Regions from separate parts of the Homo sapiens genome. Here region 2 is linked to region 1. Evidence: fine-mapped expression QTL. Tissue or cell type: whole blood. Region 1 holds a variant in brackets; the other region holds the start of a gene. All regions are shown on one strand. Distances are between the middles of the regions.

Region 1 (9,711 bases):
TTTTTTTTTTTTTGGAGACTGTTGCCCAGGCTGGAGTACAGTGGCACAATCTCGGCTCACTGCAAGCTCCACCTCCTGGGTTGGTGCCATTCTGCCTCAGCCTCCCGAGTAGCTGAGACCACAGGCGCCCGCCGCCATGCCCAGCTAATTTTTTTTGTATTTTTTAGTAGAGACGGGGTTTCGCTGTGTTAGCCAGAATGGTCTCGATCTCCTGACCTGATGATCCGCCCACCTCGGCCTCCCAAAGTGCTGGGATTACAGGCGTGAGCCACCGCACTGGGCCAGATGAAATCTTTCAGAAAAGGCTTTGACTACCAGGCCCACCGCCCTGTGTCACGGTCTCTGAGGCTGGACACCTGCATCTCAAAAAGTCAAGTCGACCCAGGGAACGTTAACTTTTTGCTTTATATAATATTATGTTGTTTAAACTCTCTTATGAAGGTTCCTGAACACACAACAACATAAAAGCAGTAAAGAAGCTGAGGGATAGCTCGCTCACCTGGCAGGATGGTGTTCGGGAGACTCCCGCAGTTGGAATACGGGCTTGGTCTCAAATGAAAAGAGTCCTGCAGTTCTCGGGAACCTTGTTGCACCAGAGGCACCTGGAAGCATCGAAGGTCATGTGAGGAAGGCCACACCTCTGTTTCCAAGGAGGAAGTGAGTATTGCAATGTGCTCCCAGAGCAAAACCTGACTTGCAAACTAATCCATATTCCCTTCTTTCCAGGATCCCAGAGTGCTTTGCTCTTATGGTAATGCATGCACAATATTCTTGTCAGGCAGGCAGACGCTGGGGTGGAGGAGGGGTCCCTGAGGTCCACAGCGTGGTGACTTTTCCCCAGCCCACTACACCATCCCAAGAGACACCAATGCTCATGGTTTCTGTGGCCCCTCAGACATCTGTCCTCAGCCTCACCAAGGCCTTTGCAAACTGCCTTCTGTGGGAACCCTTCAAAGGCTCTGTCTATAACCAAGGAAGTATGGACTCTTCTTCCTTGGTTTCTTTCTTCTTTTTTTTTTTAAAGATAGGGTCTCTGTTGCCCAGGCTGGAGTGCAATGGCGCCATCTCGGCTCACTGAAACCTCCAGCTCCCAGGCTCAAGCAATCCGTCCACCTTAGCCTCCCAAATAGCTGGGACCACATGCCACCATGCCTGGCTAATTTTTGTATTTTTTTTAGAGACAGGGTCTTGCTGTATTTTACCCAGGCTGGTCTCAAACTCCTGAGTTCAAGTAAGCCACTGGCCTTGGCCTCCCAAAGTGCTGGGATTATGGGTGTGAGCCACTGCACCTGGCCTCTTCCCTGGTTTCTAGAAAACTGAGAAAGGGGAAGGCTTTCCTTTTCACACTCAGAAGGAGGAAACTCAGGCAAGCTCCTCCCTATGAGAAAGCCTCTATGAGGACTGGTTATAACCAGTGCCAATTTTAGGTTCCTTTCCTGAAATTAATTTTCTAAGCCATTTTAAAAAAAGTCTCAAAAGAAGTGTCTATCATTTTTCAGGGAGACGGTGATTCCCACCTAGACTAAAATGGCTCTTTGGGAAACAGGGAGGCAAGGAGGATTGGTTCTTGCCACAAAGCTTCATCTGTGGCCTGCTTAGGAAACAGCTATCTTAATTTATTTTATTATTATTATTTTATTTACTTATTTTGAGACAGAGTCTTGCTTTGTTGTCCAGACTGAAGTGCAGTGGTGCGATCTCAGCTCACTGCAAGCTCCGCCTCCCGGCTTCACGCCATTCTCCTGCCTCAGCCTCCCGAGTAGCTGGGACTACAGGTGCCTGCCACCACGCCCAGCTAATTTTTTTGTATTTTTTAGTAGAGACAAGGTTTCACCGTGTTAGCCAGGATGGTCTCGATCTCCTGACCTCATGATCCGCCCGCCTCGGCCTCCCAAACTGCTGGGATTACAGGCGTGAGCCACTATGCCCAGCTATTTTATTAAGTTCTTGGCTGGGCACAGTGGCTCGCACCTGTAATCCCAGCACTTTGGGAGGCCAAGGCGGGTGGATCACTTGAGGTCCGGAGTTCAAGATTAGCCTGGTCAACAAAGTGAAACCCCATCTCTACTAAAAATATAAAATTTAGCCAGGTGTAGGGGTACATGCCTGTAACCCCAATTACTCAGGAGTCTGAGACATGAGAATCACTTGAACCCAGGAGGTGGAGGTTGCAGTAAGCCGAGATCACGCCACTGCACTCCAGCCTAGGCGACAGATTAAGATTCTGTCTCAAAAAAAAAAAAAAAAAAAAGTTCTGGAACCTGTTCAACCCTTCTTCCACTCCTTAATCCATCGGAGGGCCCAGTCCATACTTATTGAATACTATTGAATACTATAAAATCTAGAATATTAAAAATAGTCAATGTTAGGAAAAAACTAAACTGTAAAAGAAAGTGGCCGAGTTGAAAATACCTTACGGAACGCACTCCCCTCACTCCCCAGGACTGAGCTCTCCCCAGGAGGCCCCACGCTGTGCTGGGTGCACCAGCCTGGGTGCAGGCCAAATGCGGCGCCACCTTCTGACTCTGCGGTGGGAGCAGGCGCCACTCTCCCTATGCCTCAGTTTCAACATGAGGGCGCTGAGGAGGCAGGTGCTGTGTCCCTTCCAGTGTTCATGATTTTACAGTTCTACAACGAGAGTGTCATCAAAAGTCTCCTGCCGATTGTTCCAATAGTTCCTCTGCTGAAGCCTGATACTAAATAAGGCAGCCAGAGAAAGCATTTTAGGGCCAAAGAAGATGAAAGGCTCTTCTAGCCACAGAACACAACCAGAACCAGGAAAGTGGCATGTCTGGTCTGCTCAGTTCTGAATTCTACAGAATGAACAACCTAAATGGTACAGTTTATGCACCAAGGGAGGAGAAGGCAGGGGCGATCACCCACCTGTTGAGGAAAGGCAGGGCCTGGCCTCATGGACTGCTGGTCAAAACCCACATCTGGGAAGAAGTTGGTCAAAGATGAGCCCTTCAGGGAATAAGGAGATGATCATTTAGCTTGGAACTCAGAGCAAAACAAGCATTCCCTCTGCACCAACGCTCCTGCCAGAACTCACCTGGGCCGGGAGAAGCTGAAAGTCTGACTGTGGCAGTGAGGAGGCTGCCTGGGGCTGCTGGGCAGGGGCCTCAGGGGCGCGGGGCTGCTGCAGGAGGGGCTGGGTGAGCTCCTGGGGTGCAGGGTAAGGGGGTGGCGGCGACACCTGGGCTTGAGCTTCTGTGGGCAGAAAGGAAAGTTGGCTTCGGTCTGAGGACACCATCTGCAAAACAAACACACAAAGCCACTAATGAGCTTCTGCGTTTCTGGCGTTAAGTCCTTTAGGATTAGGAAATGTCAGAGTGAGAGGAAGCCTGAGATTTTCCTCACCGC[G/A]GTGTTCTGTGCAATGCTGTGAGAAGCCCGTTTCTCATCCTTCAAAGTATATCTCAAATTTTACTTCCCCACAAAGCATGTTCCATTCAATGACAAGTTCTATTGTCTTAAAAGAACTAAACAAGAAAACAGCCAATTTAACCAATTTCCTTTCAGTTTTCTCCGTGAAAATCATGTTTTGTTTTGTTTTATAGCCGTGTCTTCTGGTTAAAAGTGGAAAATTGAAAAAGGCCCTTAGCTCTGTCATCCCCAAATCCTGTTAAAACAAGACACTACAACATTAACAAGCAATAAGCATTAATAAAAAACACTAAACAACAGCACAGAACACTAAATGATAACAAACAACACGAGGACAAAGATAACGGGAGAGAAGAAAATGGCAACAAAAGCTGGAAAATGAGCAGCAGATGGCCCGGTGGCAGCTGGCTTAGCAGAGCTGAGAAAACCCGATGCTAGGCTGGCAGTGAGGAAAAACCAGGAGGCAATCTCACTGACAGCACTCAGTCCCCACAGGGCTCTGGGACTGGGGACAGCAGGGAGCAGGCGGTGAAGCTAAAACCAGGAGATTCTGGTCACAGTTTGTGTAAGGGGCAGTTGGACCTGCAGAGCCCTTGCCTTGAGTGTGCTTCTGCGCACTGGCCCCCACCATCCTGCCACCTGCCAGGAGACTGGAAGGTTCTACTTTCGAGATAATAAAACTAAGGGTCTCTGGATATTAGAAGGTGAGGCACTTTACTGAAAACACAGGGTTTAGAAGAAATTTCTTTTTCTTTAATATTTTATTTTTTTAAGTTCTAGGGTACATGTGCACAACATGCAGGTTTGTTACATATGTATACACGTGCCATGTTGGTGTGCTACACCCATTAACTCGTCATTTACGTTAGGTATATCTCCCAATGCTATCCCTCCCCCTTCCCCGCATCCCACAACAGGCCCCGGTGTGTGATGTTCCCCTTCCTGTGTCCATGTGTTCTCATTGTTCAATTCCCACCTATGAGTGAGAATATGTGGTGTTTGGTTTTTTGTCCTTGCGACAGTTTGCTGAGAATGATGGTTTCCAGCTTCATCCATGTCCCTACAAAGGACATGAACTCATCATTTTTTATGGCTGCATAGTATTCCATGGTGTATATGTGCCACATTTTCTTAATCCAGTCTATCGTTGTTGGACATCTGGCTTGGTTCCAAGTCTTTGCTATTGTGAATAGTGCTGCAATAAACATATGTGTGCATGTGTTTTTATAGCAGCATGATTTATAATCCTTTGGGTATATACCCAGTAATGGGATGGCTGGGTCAAATGGTATTTCTAGTTCAAGATCCCTAAGGAATCGCCACACTGACTTCCACAATGGTTGAACTAGTTTACAGTCCCACCAACAGTGTAAAAGTGTTCCTATTTCTCCACATCCTCTCCAGCACCTGTTGTTTCCTGACTTTTTAATGATTGCCATTCTAACTGGTGTGAGATGGTACCTCATTGTGGTTTTGATTTGCATTTCTCTGATGGCCAGTGATGATGAGCATTTTTTCATGTGTCTTTTAGCTGCATAAATGTCTTCTTTTGAAGAGTGTCTGTTCATATCCTTCGCCCACTTTTTGATGGGGTTGTTTGTTTTTTTCTTGTAAATTTGAGTTCTTTGTAGATTCTGGATATTAGCCCTTTGTCAGATGAGTAGATTGCAAAAATTTTCTCCCATTCTGTAGTTTGCCTGTTCACTCTGATGGTAGTTTCTTTTGCTGTGCAGAAGCTCTTTAGTTTAATTAGATCCCATTTGTTAATTTTGGCTTTTGTTGCCATTGCTTTTGGTGTTTTAGACATGAAGTCCTTGCCCATGCCTATGTCCTGAATGGTATTGCCTAGGTTTTCTTCTAGGGTTTTTATGGTTTTAGGTCTAACATTTAAGTCTTTAATCCATCTTGAATTAATTTTTGTATAAGGTGTAAGGAAGGGATCCAGTTTCAGCTTTCTACGTATGGCTAGCCAGTTTTCCCAGCACCATTTATTAAATAGGGAATCCTTTCCCCATTTCTTGTTTTTGTCAGGTTTGTCAAAGATCAGATGGTTGTAGATATGTGGCATTATATCTGAGGGCTCTGTTCTGTTCCATTGGTCTATATCTCTGTTTTGGTACCAGTACCATGCTGTTTTGGTTACTGTAGCCTTGTAGTATAGTTTGAAGTCAGGTAGCATGATGCCTCCAGCTTTGTTCTTTTGGCTTAGGATTGACTTGGCAATGTGGGCTCTTTTTCGGTTCCATATGAACTTTAAAGTAGTTTTTTCCAATTCTGTGAAGAAAGTCATTGGTAGCTTGATGGGGATGGCATTGAATCTATAAATTACCTTGGGCAGTATGGCCATTTTCACAATATTGATTCTTCCTACCCATGAGCATGGAATGTTCTTCCATTTGTTTGTATCCTCTTTTATTTCATTGAGCAGTGGTTTGTAGTTCTCCTTGAAGAGGTCCTTCACATCCCTTATAAGTTGGATTCCTAGGTATTTTATTCTTTAGAAGAAATTTCACGATCGAATCTTAAGATCTCCACCTTTCTTTCCCAACCCGGCTCACAGGATGCCGGAATCCTGATATGCCGAGGTGCGACATTGGAAGAGTGTCCTTTAGGGAACCTGACAAGGCCTGAAGAGAGAAAATCTTTTTTTCTGGAGACAGAGTTTTTCTGGAGACAGAGTCTTGCTCTGTCACCCAAGCTGGAGTGCAGTGGCATGACCTTGGCTCACTGCAACCTCCACCTCCTGGGTTCAAGCAATTCTCCTGCCTCAGTCTCCCGAGTAGCTGAGATTACAGGAGCATGCTAACACGCCTGGCTAATTTTTGTATTTTTAGTAGAGACGGGGTTTCACCATGTTGGCCAGGCTGGTCTCGAACTCCTGACCTCAGGTGATCCACCCGCCTCGGCCTCCCAAAGTGCTGAGATTACAGGTGTGAGCCACCACGCCTGGCCAGAGAAGAATGTAAAACTTATGACACCAGGAGTTTCCCAAGGAAATGACCAAGCTAGATCATTCTACAATGAAGACCACACTCAGCAGGCCTGCCCACATACACAGAGCTGCCAGCCAGCTTCTCAGTGTCCTTTTTTTTTTCTCATTTACATATTTTTATTTGGAAATGTTTATATCAGTACAAGGAAACAATTTTGGAGACACTGGATGTCATTAGTTATCATTAGTTTATTATAAGAAATATGGAAATTATTTACATGATGAAAGATTTCAGAACTTCAGTGGAATGGGCAGCTTCACACTGATGCCATTTCAGTAGTGACTTATTTCAGTCTATGTACTTTCCAAGAATGTCACCATCTCTAAATAGGAAATAATCCTTGTCATCTAGAACTACTTTGGTGCCTCCATATTCTGGGAGAAGAACTTTATCTCCAACTTTCACGCTAACTGGTTGAATCTCTCCAGCCTTACCTTTAGAACCCGATCCAACAGTGACTACTGTTGCTTGCAATACTTTTCCTTGAGATTTTTCTGGAAGCAAAATGCCTCCTTTGGTTACAGTTTTAGCAGCGCTCCTTCCAACCAATACTCAGTCAGAGAGTGGAAAAAACTTTCTACACGCTTGTCCTGCCATGACTCCCTTCGCCTCAGTCTCATACTCCGCTCTAGTGTAGAGCCGCAAGGAGACAGCCCCTCAGTGTCCTGTTCTTAAACATGAGCAGAGCACTGAGGATCACCAGGCCCTGAGGAAACCATCTGCCGTGAAAGTCAGAGGCCAGAGCAGACACACACAATCTTGGAAAGATGTGTGCAGGAAGAAGTAGTTGTGAAAAACCAAAATCAGCATGACAATATTTAGGCTACTAAGAAAATCCTTATCTATTAGAGATACATATTAAAATATCTGCAATTTTTAAAAGCAGGGTATGGATGAAACAAGATAACAAGGCTGGCGTGCTGGCTCACGCCTGTAATCTCAGACTTTGGGAGGCTGAGGTGGGTGGATCACCTGAGGTCAGGAGTTTGAAACCAGCCTGGCCAACATGGTGAAATCCCGTCTCTACTAAAAATTACAAAAATTAGCCAGGTGTGGTGGTGTGCACCTGTAGTCCCAGCTATTCGGGAGGCTGAGGCCAGGAGAATGGTTTGAACCTGGATGGCGGAGGTTACAATGAGCCGAGATCACACCACTGCACTCCAGCCTGGGCAACAGAGCAAGACCCTGTCTCAAAAAAAAAAAATTAATTGTTGAGGGTAAATGATGGGTATAGGAGGACTTATTGTATTATGTTCTCTACTTTTATGCAATTTAGGAAAATTCTATTATAGAAAATAAAGATAAATTCGAAAAAAAAAGACCACTAAAAACCTGAGAGATAAAAGATGATATTGCATCTGTGGAATAAGTATGATGCTATTAAAAAAGAACACTCAGAGAACAAAAAAGAACTCATAGCAATTTAAAAATGAGAGCAGAAATGGAAAACTCAACAGAAGTGTTGGAAGATAAAGCTGAGACAATCTTCCAGAAAGCAAAGCAAAACAAACAAACAAGGAAGCAACCACAGAGAAGCAAAAGAGGAGAGAGAGAAGATAAGGATAATAGAGGAAAAGTCCAGGATAGTCAACATTCGTAGAGTTCCAGAGAGAAAGAACAGAGAAAACTGAAGGGAAGAAATCATTGAAGAAATAAAGAACATTTCCCAGAAATGAAGGCTGTGAGTTTCCAGATTGAAGGAACCCACCAAATATGCAGACTCACGCCAAGCCACATCATCTTGAAGTTTCAGAACACTGGGGACAAAAAGATCTCACAAGCCTGGGGTGGAGCAGGGGGATTCCATGCAAAGTGTTAAGAGTCCGAATGGCACTGGATTTCTCAATGCAACTTACAAATGAATAGGCAATAGATGCCAAGGGAAAATTATTTCAAATTTAGAATTCTATATTCAGCCAAATAATAATTAAATGGCAGATCAAATAAAGACATTTTAAGTCATACAAAGTCACAGGCACTCTTTGCTATAGAGCTACTAGAGAATTTAGTTTTGAATGTGTCGAGAGGAGATCTGCCCAACTCCAAGAGTTGGGGACTGAATTAGTCATACACATAGATACATATAGATAACCAGGCTAATAAAAAAAGTCAGACATTTATTAACTCCCAAGAGGAAAAAAAATTCTCATTTTCTTGTTTCATAGTATACTATATGTCAACTCTGACTACATTGTAACTATAAAAACACTAAATATTGAGTATTGCTCTAACCAAAATTATAATAAATGAGGAGGGTGGGTAGGAAATTGTGTGTGCACATGTGCGCACATATGTGTGTGGTGGAGTCTGTGGGAGAGTGGAAAGAGAATTAAATTCTAATCTTCATTGGTAGGATGTCATTAGATAATGCCTAACACCAAAAATGTAGAACAAAAAAAGCATAAAACAACATGGTTAGGCTGGGTGAGGTGGCTCATGCCTGTAATCCAGCACTTTGGGACGCCGAGGCGGGCAGACTGCCTGAGGTCAGGAGTTCGAAACCAGCCTGGCTAACATGGTAAAACCCTGTATCTACTAAAAATACAAAAAGTAGCCAGGCGTCGTGGCACATGCCTGTAGTCCCAGCTACTTAGGAAGCTGAGGCAGGAAAATCGCTTGAACCTGGGAGGTGGAGGTTTCAGTGAGTTGAGATCGCACCACTACACCCCAGCCTGGGTGACAGAGCAAGACTCTGTCTCAAAATAATAATAACATGGTTATACCAAAGAGATTAGTTAAAATGGTTGACAGCCATCTCTAGGCAGTGAGGAATATGCCTAACGAGAGGGAAAGACAGCTGTTTTTCTATAACAAGCCCTTTAGAACTATTTTACTTTTTAAACTATGTGCATGAATAACATTCACTTTTTAAAATTTCCTTTTTTTAAGAGATAGATAGGGTGTCACTATGTTGCCAAGGCTGGTCTTGAACTCCGGGCCTTAAGCAATCCTCCAGTCTCTGCCTCCTGAGTAGCTGGGATTACAGTCAGAACAACTGTGTCCAGCAACATTCATTTAAAAAAAATCTAAATATTAAACAAATTAAAAACACATCTGAAAGGGGACACTCTGGCCATACAGTCTCCTTAAAATGTAGCTAAAAAGCAAGAATACTTTTAGATCTTATAAAATAATCTTGCAAAATAAAATTAAAGGTAATTCAATAACATAAGAACCACGAAAACAATAATTATGGACTAGCCTGGGCAATATGGTGAAACCCCATCTCTACAAAAAAAAAAAAATACAAAAATTAGTCGGGTGTGATGGTATACACCTGTAGTCCTATGTGCTTGGGAGGTTAAGGTGGGAGGATCACCTGAGCTCAGGGAGT
Region 2 (9,855 bases), 110 kb after region 1:
ATCCTCTTTTACTGAATCTCTGTTCTCTGTACCTGCAACATATTCCCTCCCTCAACACACAAACCCTCGAATGCCTCCCCCACTCCCCCTGAGCCTTTAGGCCACTGGAAGAGGTGAGAATTCCCTACCATACAGGTCCAGAGCTCCACCTACTTCTGTTTTGGTGATATTCACCAAAATGTGTCCTTACTTATTAAATGAATGTCTTCCTCATTAAATCCTAAAATCCACTGGGACACTGTGTTTTGCTTGCTCATTACTATATACCCAGTGTCCATCCTAACCCCTGGCACACACTAAGGACTCACTCAGTAAGTAAATTTGTGGAACAAATCAGTAAGATCTTTAAAGGACAGCCCCATGTTTTCACTCTTCTCCCTCACAAACACACACCCCATTAACAACAAAGTAGGCACTCAAATACTGACAAATGAATACATTAATAAATGAACAACAGAACAGCCTCTTCCCAGGCATACCTGCAACCACTTTCTTCCCTTTTTTTTTTTTTTTCCTAGGCGGAGTCTCGCTCTGTCGCCCAGGCTGGAGTGCAATGGCGCGATCTCGGCTCACTGCAAGCTCCGCCTTCCGGGTTCACGCCATTCTCCTGCCGCAGCCTCCCTCCTGCCGCAGCCTCCCGAGTAGCTGGGACTACAGGCGCCCGCCACCATGCCCGGCTAATTTTTTTGTAGTTTTAGTAAAGACAGGGTTTCACTGTGTTAGCCAGGATGGTCTCGATCTCCTGACCTCGTGATCTGCCCGCCTCGGCCTTCCAAAGTGCTGGGATTACAGGCGTGACCCACCGCGCCCGGCCTTTTTTTTTTTTTTTTTTTTTTTTTTTTTTTTTTTTTGAGATGAAGTCTTGCTCTGTCGCCCAGGCTGGAGTGCAGCGGTGCGATCCCGGCTCACTGCAACCTCCACCTCCTGGGTTCGAGCGATTCTCCTGCCTCAGCCTCCCGAGTAGCTGGAACTACAGGCGCACGCCACCATGCCAGGCTAATTTTTGTACTTTTAGTAGAAACGGGGTTTCGCCATGTTGGCCAGGATGGTCTCGATCTCTTGACCTCGTGATCTGCCCGCCTCAGCCTCCCAAAGTGCTGGGATTACAGGCGTGAACCACCACGCCCGACCCCACTTTCCTCCCTCTCTTTACCATTCCAGGTACCACCACTCAACTCCTCCTCCTAGTACTCCCTTCTCAAAATTTTCCCACTGCTTCCTGATAATGCCGGACTTCTAAAGCTAGAGAAAATCCTCTACAGTCTAGTCTATCCTACCCACTAGGTGAATAGGATAAGTAACGCCTAGGTGAATAGGTAAGTAAGGCCAACTCTGAAGGATTGCTTTGATCATGTAGAGAAGAACTTGAATCCCAACACAGGCTCAGAGGGGAAAGAGCATCTAGATAGATCAGTAATGTCTGCCCTATCGATTAGCATGTCTGTCATGGGCTAGTAATGAAAAGTCAGGAATTAGCATGTCTGTCATGGGCTAGTAATGAAAAGTCAGTATATCTGCCACCCAGTTACCAATTATGAACTAGGCAGATACTCCTCCAACTGGGATCTTTGGATCCTTAGAGACGCATTCTTCATAGACATGCTGGGAATCTAAGAGTTCTCTATGAGAAGTGTTCTAATTTTGTGATTTCTTCATGAAAATAACCCTTAAGATTTTTAAATAAGCAAACATTAGTAGCCAAATTCAGTGTTATCATTTACAGATGTGTTTATGAACACGGTGGAGCCAAGCAGTGTTACTTTACTGGTAACTGGCCAAGAAGAAAACACGGGCAGAATTAATATGTAAATGATTCCCTGTACCAGGTGAAGGGCAAAATGACACCATAATTTTGTAGTAATTAGAATAAAGTGGTGACTGAATTATCATATGGGCCACAGTTGATTAGGCTTGCTAAATTCAAGAGACCCTGAGCTATAGCAGGGTCTCTAAAGTAAGTAAACACTTTTTTTTTACTTGAAAGTAAGTAAACAGTGAGGATCTGTGAAAAATTTTTGCTTTTAAAAGAGAGTCTGTACATTACTCATGGCCTCACCTGTCAGGGATATTTTAAAGAAGATTCATGAATTGGGTGAAAGATTGGATCCGCCATAGGTATACAGACATATACAGTGCATGTATTTGTACATAAACAATGTACAGTATGTATTTAAAAACACATAACAACACAGGCCCCAACACTAATCCTCAGCTTTCACCCACCCATTCTTTTCAACGTGCTCTGAGCTTATCGAGTTCATCTCTGAATCTAACCAAGGTCACAGATGTAAATGCCAGTGGATGCCAGGCAGGTAAAAAATGAGTGAAGCTGATAGGGTATAAGAAAACATTTTCTTGAAATCTTCAGCTTCTTTCTCTCTATATATATATTTTTTCTCAATGTGAACAGAAATGTAAGTACAGGAAATATTTCACTTTTTCCTTAACTTCACTGAAAGAAAACACCATCATGAGTATAAATGGCAACTGTCACCTAATCTCCCCTTGGGGGACTGTGACAGAGAGTGGACGGTGGCAAACTAGAGTTCTTACTCCATTTGAAAGGGAGCTCAGCTCAGCTCCCTTTCATCATCACCCAGCTCCAGCAGGTCGGTAGCTGTCATGTAGGAATTCAGAATTAGTGTTACCAGGTCTCCCAATTTTTAACATATATAAATAATAATAAATAAATAATACGGAAATTTGGATTTTGTGTGGAAGTCTTCCAATTTAAAAATTCTGGCAACAGATTCAATAATTTTTCCCAAACACTGCGCTGGCCAAAAAATAATGTGTCTGCAACTCAGCTGGTTTGCAACTCTGCTCTCAGCTCTCCTTCAAACTGTCTCCCCCGCCTCAGTCCCCCAGAATCTGCAGATCCTCCCCCATCCTCCCGATGGTCCTCCAAGGTCAGCATTCAGGATCCTCAAGGCCAGCCCCACTCCTGCTGACCCCCCTTCTCTGCAACCCTGCGCGGACACTCCGGTTGGCTCTCCATCCTCCACTGCCTCACTCAGCGGTTACCTAACCTCTCCAGGTGTTTGTCCCGGCTCGCGCCTTACTCATTCCTCCAGGTCCCTCTCCAGTCACCAGCGACGCTTGTCAGTTCTCACTAAATATCCCGGGCCGAACAAAGTAAACTGGACCCGATAAAGCACCTCCAAGGAGTAAAAGGAGCAGAGCCTCACACTCGACACGGAATCCCGTCGTGGTTCCAACAACCCGAGCCACCCCAGGGCCGGGCCCTGGATGGACTTGTGCACAGAGCTCCCCCCACGAGCGCGTGGGACCCTGGGGTGCCCGCGGCCTTCCACGCCGGCAGAACAGCAGGGCTCGATGGTGGGGGATGTTCGGAGCGACCAGAAGCCGCGCCGCGCCACCCGGCCGGCCTCCGAGCTGTTTGCGATTTCCTCTCGGGGCTCCTCGTCCTCCTCCCCCTCAGGCCGCCCTCGCACGGCCGCCCGCCTCCACGGGCTTCACCCCTGCCCATCTTCCCGCACACGGGGCCGGGCGACCCTCCCACCTCAGCCCGGGATCGCGAACGGCTAGCGGGTGTCGCCAGGCGGGGAAACGCCGAGGCCGCGGCCGCTCCGGTCCCCCTCCCAGCCGCCGGTTCCCGGGCGCGGCCCCCGCCCGGCCCCGCCATCGCCTTGGCCCCGCAACCTCTCACCCGCCGCGCGGGTCCCGCCCGCGGCCGTGGCCGCCCCCGCCCGCGCCGGCCCGGGCCCTCACCCGCGACAGGGTGAGGTCGGTCATGAGCTGCTCGAAGGCCCGCGTCTCCTCGGCCTGTCTCTGCGTGTGCAGCGCGATCTTCTCACTGAACTTCCGCGGGTTGGCGCTGCCCGAGCCCGGCGAGGCGGCCATGGCGCGGACTCTGCGCGGGCAGAAGCGGGAGACGGCGGCCGTGGGGCCTGTACCTCGGCCCACCCGTCCGTCCACAGGCCGCCGGGGCCGCCGCCCGAAGCCAGTCGTCCGGCGCGACCCGGCAGAGGAGCCGCCGCGGCCCCGGAGCCAGCGAGCGGCCGGGAGCGCGCCGAGGTCCGCCCCCGTGCGCCCGGCCCCGCCCCACCCTCGGCGGGGCCCGCCCGGCCTCCAGTCTGCCCCGGCCCCACGCTCGCGGGCTGAGGGCTGCTCCCCGCTTCCCGGTCTGGCTCGGGACCCGCCGCCGGCGGCCACCTGGAGGGACCCCCGTCAGCCCGACAAAGTGGCCCCGGCGTACGGGGAACGCTGGGGTGCCACTCCACGGAGACTCTCCGACCCAGGGATGGCCTCTGCGTCTACGCGACGTGGAGAACACAGCCTGTGCCCGCATCCCCCCTCCCCCAGCCAAATTACGAAGATTTTCTTCTCCAGGTGGAACCTGGGCGACCGGACCTCGAGCAGGTCACCTCGGGCCCCCGCAGGGGGTGCGCCCATTTTGCCTGGGGCCTAACGTCTGCCCGCCAGCCCTGCCGCTCCAGGCCCCCGGCCTCCAGCCGCTGGTTTCCTGACCTCTCACACCCACCCCTCCCCGCTCCAGTCAACCAGAGCTGTATCTCGGCTTTAAAAACTGCCTCCTATTCTGCACAAACTACAAACACCATCCAGCCCTGCTGCAGCCTTGGCTCCATAGCCCCGGCCCCCTTTCCAGGTTCTTTCCAAGTCTCCCTACGGCCTCTCCACTCCTGTGGCAGCTTCAGCAGGTGCCAGCCCCACCTTGGGAAACCAGCGCTCAGCCTCAGCGAATTTCCCCTTCTTTTGGGGGAGTGAATGGATGTCTTTCTCTGTCGCCCGGTCTGGAGTGTAGTGGTGCGATCTCGACTCACCGCGGCCTTGACCTCCCGGGCTCAAAAGATCCTCCCACCTCAGCCTCCCGACCAGCTGGGACCACAGGCGGGGGTCACCACGCCCGGCTAGTTTGTAAATGTTTTTGTAGCAATGGGGGGCGGGGGTGGGTCTCGCTATTTTGCCCAGGCTGGTCTCGAACGCCTGGGCTCAAGCGATCTGCCCACCTCAGCCTCCCAAAGTGCTGGGATAACAGGCGTGGGCCACAGTGCCCGGGGAGTTTCCTCTTTGGAGTCCAGAAGCTACTCTCAGCATAAATGTTGATGTGCACAAAGATGTCCCGGGGAGCCCTGAGCGTGTGTCAGTGTTCTGTAAAGAGGGAAATATTAGAGGCCTACGGAAGAGTACGGAAAATAATATTAATACTACCCACGCCCCCCACTATCAAGATTAAACAGACATCAATACATTTTGCTGCATGTACTTGGGATTTATTAAAGACATACAAAATTAGTCATAACGACGGCCCCACTCTCATTTCTTCTTCCGCCCCACAGATAGTCACCGTGCTCAAGTTGGTACATATCATTCCAGTTTGTGTTTTTATACTTTTATTACATATGATGTAGAGATCCAGCAATGCTATATGGAATACCTAATTTTGTTTTTAAACTTTACAAAAATGACACCATACTGAATAATCATTTTGCATCTTTTTTCATTCTCCATTATGTTTTCGAGATATATTTGTGTCAATTCATTTATATGATAATATTCCATTATGTTTTTCACCTGTCTCTCAGACATAGCCTATAACTGGACTTTTTAGAAAATGTATTCTGAAAATATATCTCTGTTAGCTAGAATTTAGCTATTTTTATTAATTATAATTGGATTTTTTTTTCTGTTGTATTTTGTGTTATTTACCATGCTTTTTTTTTGTTGTTGGTTTGTTTTTGAGACGGAGTCTTGCTCTGTTACCCAGGCTGGAGTGCAGTGGCCTGATCTCAGCTCACTGCAAACTCTGCCTCTTGAGTTCAAGTGATTCTTGTGCCTCAGCCTCCCGAGTAACTGGGATTACAGGCTTGCGCCACCATGCCCGGCTAGTTTTTTTTTTTTTTTTTAAGACAGAGTCGCGCTCTGTCGCCCAGGCTGGAGTGCAGTGGTGCAATCTCGGCTCACTGCAATCTCTGCCTCCTGGGTTCAAGCTATTCTCCTGCCTCAGCCTCCTGAGTAGCTGGGATTACAGGTACACGCCACCACGCAGGCTAATTTTTTGTATTTTTTGTAGAGACGAGGTTTCACCATGTTGGTCAGGCTGGTCTCAAACTGCTGATCACAGGTGATCCACCTGTCTCGGCTTCCCAAAATGCTGGGATTGCAGGCGTGAGCCACCGCGCCTAGCATTTTTCTTTACATTTTATTTCTGCTTTTCTGTTACATTGTTTGGGTCAAGTTTCAGAGAACAGAACCATTCTAGATGGTTTAAGTACAAAAGAATATATTACAGGGTATAAAATGACTTCCAGACTTGTTTGGAGGGCTGAAGCAACCGACTCCAGGTTGAACTTTGAGGAATGACTTTGAGAGCTATGCTGCAATACTGAGCCACCAAAGGAGACACTGCCTCTTTTGAAATCAGGAAGCCATCTACTAAATTGGAAAGCTGTCTCTACACTTACCAGCTCTTGAACCATACAGGTATCATCATGATGAGAAGCCACTGCAGAAATATCAAGCATCGGCCAGGTGCAGTGGCTCACGCCTGTAATCCCAGCATTTTGGGAGGCCAAGGCGGGCAGATCGCCTGAGGTCAGGAGTTTGAGACCACCCTGACCAATATGGTGAAACCCTGTCTCTACTAAAAATACAAAAATTAGCCAGGTGTGGTGGCATGTGCCTGTAGTCCCAGCTACTCAGGAGGCTGAGGCAGGAGAATTGCTTAAATCCAGGAGGGGGAGGTTGCAGTCAGCCAAGATCACACCACTGCACTCCAGCCTGGGCCACAGAGGGAGACTCCGTCTCAAAAAAAAAAAAAAAAAAAAAAAAAAAGGCCAGGCTCAGTGGCTCACACCTGTAATCCCAGCACTTTGGGAGGCCGAGGTGTGGGTGGATCACCTGAGGTCAGGAGTTTGAGACCAGTCTGACCAACAAGGTGAAACCCGGTCTCTACTAAAAATATAAAAATTAGCAGGGCGTGGTGGCAGGCGCCTATAGTCCCAGCTACTCAGGAGGCTGAGACAGGAGAATTGCTTGAACCCAGGAGCAGAGGTTGCTGTGAGCCAAGATCACCCGACTGCACTCCAGCCTGGGCGACGAAGCGAGACTCCGTCTCAAAAAAAAAAAAAAAAAATCAAACACCTCCACCACAGCACTCCCCAGCATAAATAGCACACACAGACTTCACTTCACCTCCACCTTATACATCTCATGAGAGGAAATGATTGGAAAAACCAAAATTGTGTCCAAAATCCCTGCCACAAGGTCATCTAGGAAATGTAGATTCGACCTTTCAGCTTGTGCAATGTAGGGAGGACTGTAGAAAGATATTGAGATGAAAGGCTGGGTGCGGTGGTCGTGCCTGTAATCCCAGCACTTTGGGAGGCCAAGGCGGGCAGATCATGAGGTCAGGAGATCGAGACCATCCTGGCTAACACGGTGAAACCCCGTCTCTACTAAAAATACAAAAAAAATTAGCGGGGCGTGGTGGTGGCGGGCACCTGTAGTCCCAGCTACTCGGGAGGCAGAGGCAGGAGAATGGCGTGAGCCCGAGAGGCGGAGCTTGCAGTGAGCCGAGATCGCGCCACTGCACTCCAGCCTGGGTGACAGAGGGAGACTCCGTCTCACAAAAACAAATATATATATATATATATAGAGATGAGATGAGTATTAAGCTAAATCTACCATTATCTGTCCACCAATTCACCAGCATAGGCACCTGTCATAGCTGCACTCTGGTTCCATGTTTCTGGAATCTGATTTGGAGTATATTCATTCTACTTCTGTTCTTATTTGATTAACTTAATCATATTACATTTGGTTTTTTTTTTTTAGAGACAGGGTCTCACTGTGTTGCCCAGGCTGGACCTGAACTCGTGGGCTCAAGCCATCCTCCTGCCTCAGTTTCCTGAGAAGCTGGGATAATTTTCTAATCAAAAAATGTGAATTATTTAAGAAGTGAAATTTATAGGCTTACAATCGTAAAAAGATTTCTCAAGTCCTTTTTTTTTTTTTTTTTTTTTTTTTGAGACAGGGTCTCTTGCTCTGTTACCCAGGCTGGAGTGCAGTGAATGGAAAGATCAGGGCTCACTGCAGCCTCAGACACTCTCACCTCAGCGCCTCCTCAGTAGCTGGGACTACAGGTGCGTGGCACCATCCCTGGCTTGTTGTTTTTTTTTTTTAATTTTAGTAGAGACAAGGTCTTCCTATGTTGCTCAGGCTAGTCTTGAATTCCTGGGCTCAAGTGATCCCCCAAACTCAGCCTCCCAAAGTGCTGGGATTACAGGGATGAGCCACCATACATGGCCCCCAAGTCCTACTTTAAATGAAGTTAATCCTGCTGTTTTATGATATTTTAAAATTTTAGATAGTTAACTGTTCATTTTCTACCATAGAAAATGATGATTTGGCCATTTTATGCCCCAACAAAAATATAATTTTCCCTGACCTCATTCTTTCAATGTAGTTATGTGATCATTCTTGGTAAATCAATATTAAGTGGTTTTTAAATTATTATTGTTATTATTTTGAGACAGGGTCTCACTCTGTCACCCAGGCTGTAGTACAGTGGCATGATCTTGGCTCACTGCAGCTCCGACCTTCTGGGCTCAAGCAATCCTCCCACCTCAGCCTCCTAAGTAGCTGGGACTACAGGCACGCACCACCACACCTGGCTAAGTTTCTTCAGTTTTTGTAGTGATGAAGTCTTACCATGTTGCCCAGGCTGGTCTCGAACCCCTGGGCTCAAGGGATCCTCCCGCCTCGGCCTCCCAAAGTGCTGGGATTACAGGTATGAGCCACTGTGCTTGGCAATATTAAGCGTTCACATAGTGTAGCATAGTTCTATTTTGGTACAAATTTCTTTTTGGAGTTAAAAATTGCCTCTGTTATTGATTTGCTTAGATTTCTCTCAAGCCATTATTCATCCTTTCCCAAACTCCGACAGAGCTATGAAACATATGACTGAATCTATGAATGACTGGTTTTGGGGGAAGCTTCTTTTCTGGAGCGCTGTGCCCTCTGGCTGCATCCTGGGCTGTTCCCCAGCCTGCAGCACTGCTGTGGTGCAGTCCCCCTCACCATCACCCCAAGCTTCCCTCCGCCTCCTGTGTTCTCACCTCCGCTTCCCGGATCCCAGGTTGTCGTCTTGCCATGTGTACACCTTCACTTTGGTGGAGTACATTCTCCAATAGTTTCCTGGAGAGAAAAAGGGTACGTGAAAGATAAAATCTCTGAGACTGTGTGTGAAGATGGTTTTATTTTACCCTCCTGTTTGATTATTAGCTTGGCTAAGAGTAGGGCTTCTCTGGAAATGCTTTTCATTTAGATCTTTGAATGCATTGGGTCACTGTTTTCTCACTTTCAGTGTTGCTACTGAGAAGGCCACTCACATTCGGTTTCCTTTTCCTTTGTAGGTGACCTGTTTTTTTGTTTGTTTGTTTTTGGTTTTTTTTTTTTTGGTTTATTGTTTTTTGTTTTTGAGATGGAGTCTTGCTCTGTCACCTAGGCTGGAGTGCAGTGGCGCAATCTCAGCTCACTGCAACCTCTGCCTCTTGGGTTCAAGCGGTTCTCCTGCCTCAGCCTCCTGAGTACCTGGGATTACAGGCACGCACCACCATGCCTGGCTAACTTTTTTTGTATTTTTAGTGGAGACAGGGTTTCACCATGTTGCCCAGGCTGGTCTCAAACTCCTGGGCTCATGCGATTCACCCTCCTCAGCCTCTGAAAGTGCTGGGATTACAGGCATGAGTCACAGCACCTGGCATCTTTCTGGAACTTTTGTTAGTTAATGGGCCTCCTAGATTGCTCTTCTAATTTTCTTATCTTTTGTCTCCTATTTTCTATTTACTTGTCTTTTGTTATTTTCCTATT

What was found. PIP is the estimated chance that this variant, and not a neighbour inherited with it, causes the effect.
Region 2: it holds the start of CRTC3, and the variant in region 1 is fine-mapped to the expression of CRTC3 in whole blood (TOPMed, PIP 0.98).

Annotation. Positions count from the first base shown.
Region 1 is chr15:90,631,988-90,641,698 of GRCh38, reverse strand. It overlaps CRTC3 (CREB regulated transcription coactivator 3), which reads right to left. Exons shown (of 15, transcript NM_022769.5): 12 at 3,053-3,253; 13 at 2,884-2,964; 14 at 500-602. It overlaps CRTC3-AS1 (CRTC3 antisense RNA 1), which reads left to right. Exons shown (of 4, transcript NR_120372.1): 3 at 442-657. It also overlaps the pseudogene HSPE1P3. Among named protein-coding and RNA genes, the nearest start is that of LINC01585, 23 kb to the left of the region's middle. RefSeq lists an enhancer at 1-975. The variant G/A (reference allele first, on the strand shown) is at 3,364.
Region 2 is chr15:90,524,081-90,533,935 of GRCh38, reverse strand. It overlaps CRTC3 (CREB regulated transcription coactivator 3), which reads right to left and starts at 4,013. Exons shown (of 15, transcript NM_022769.5): 1 at 3,733-4,013. The coding sequence starts at 3,864. RefSeq lists an enhancer at 2,910-3,069 and silencers at 3,460-3,639, 3,660-4,409, 4,510-4,559.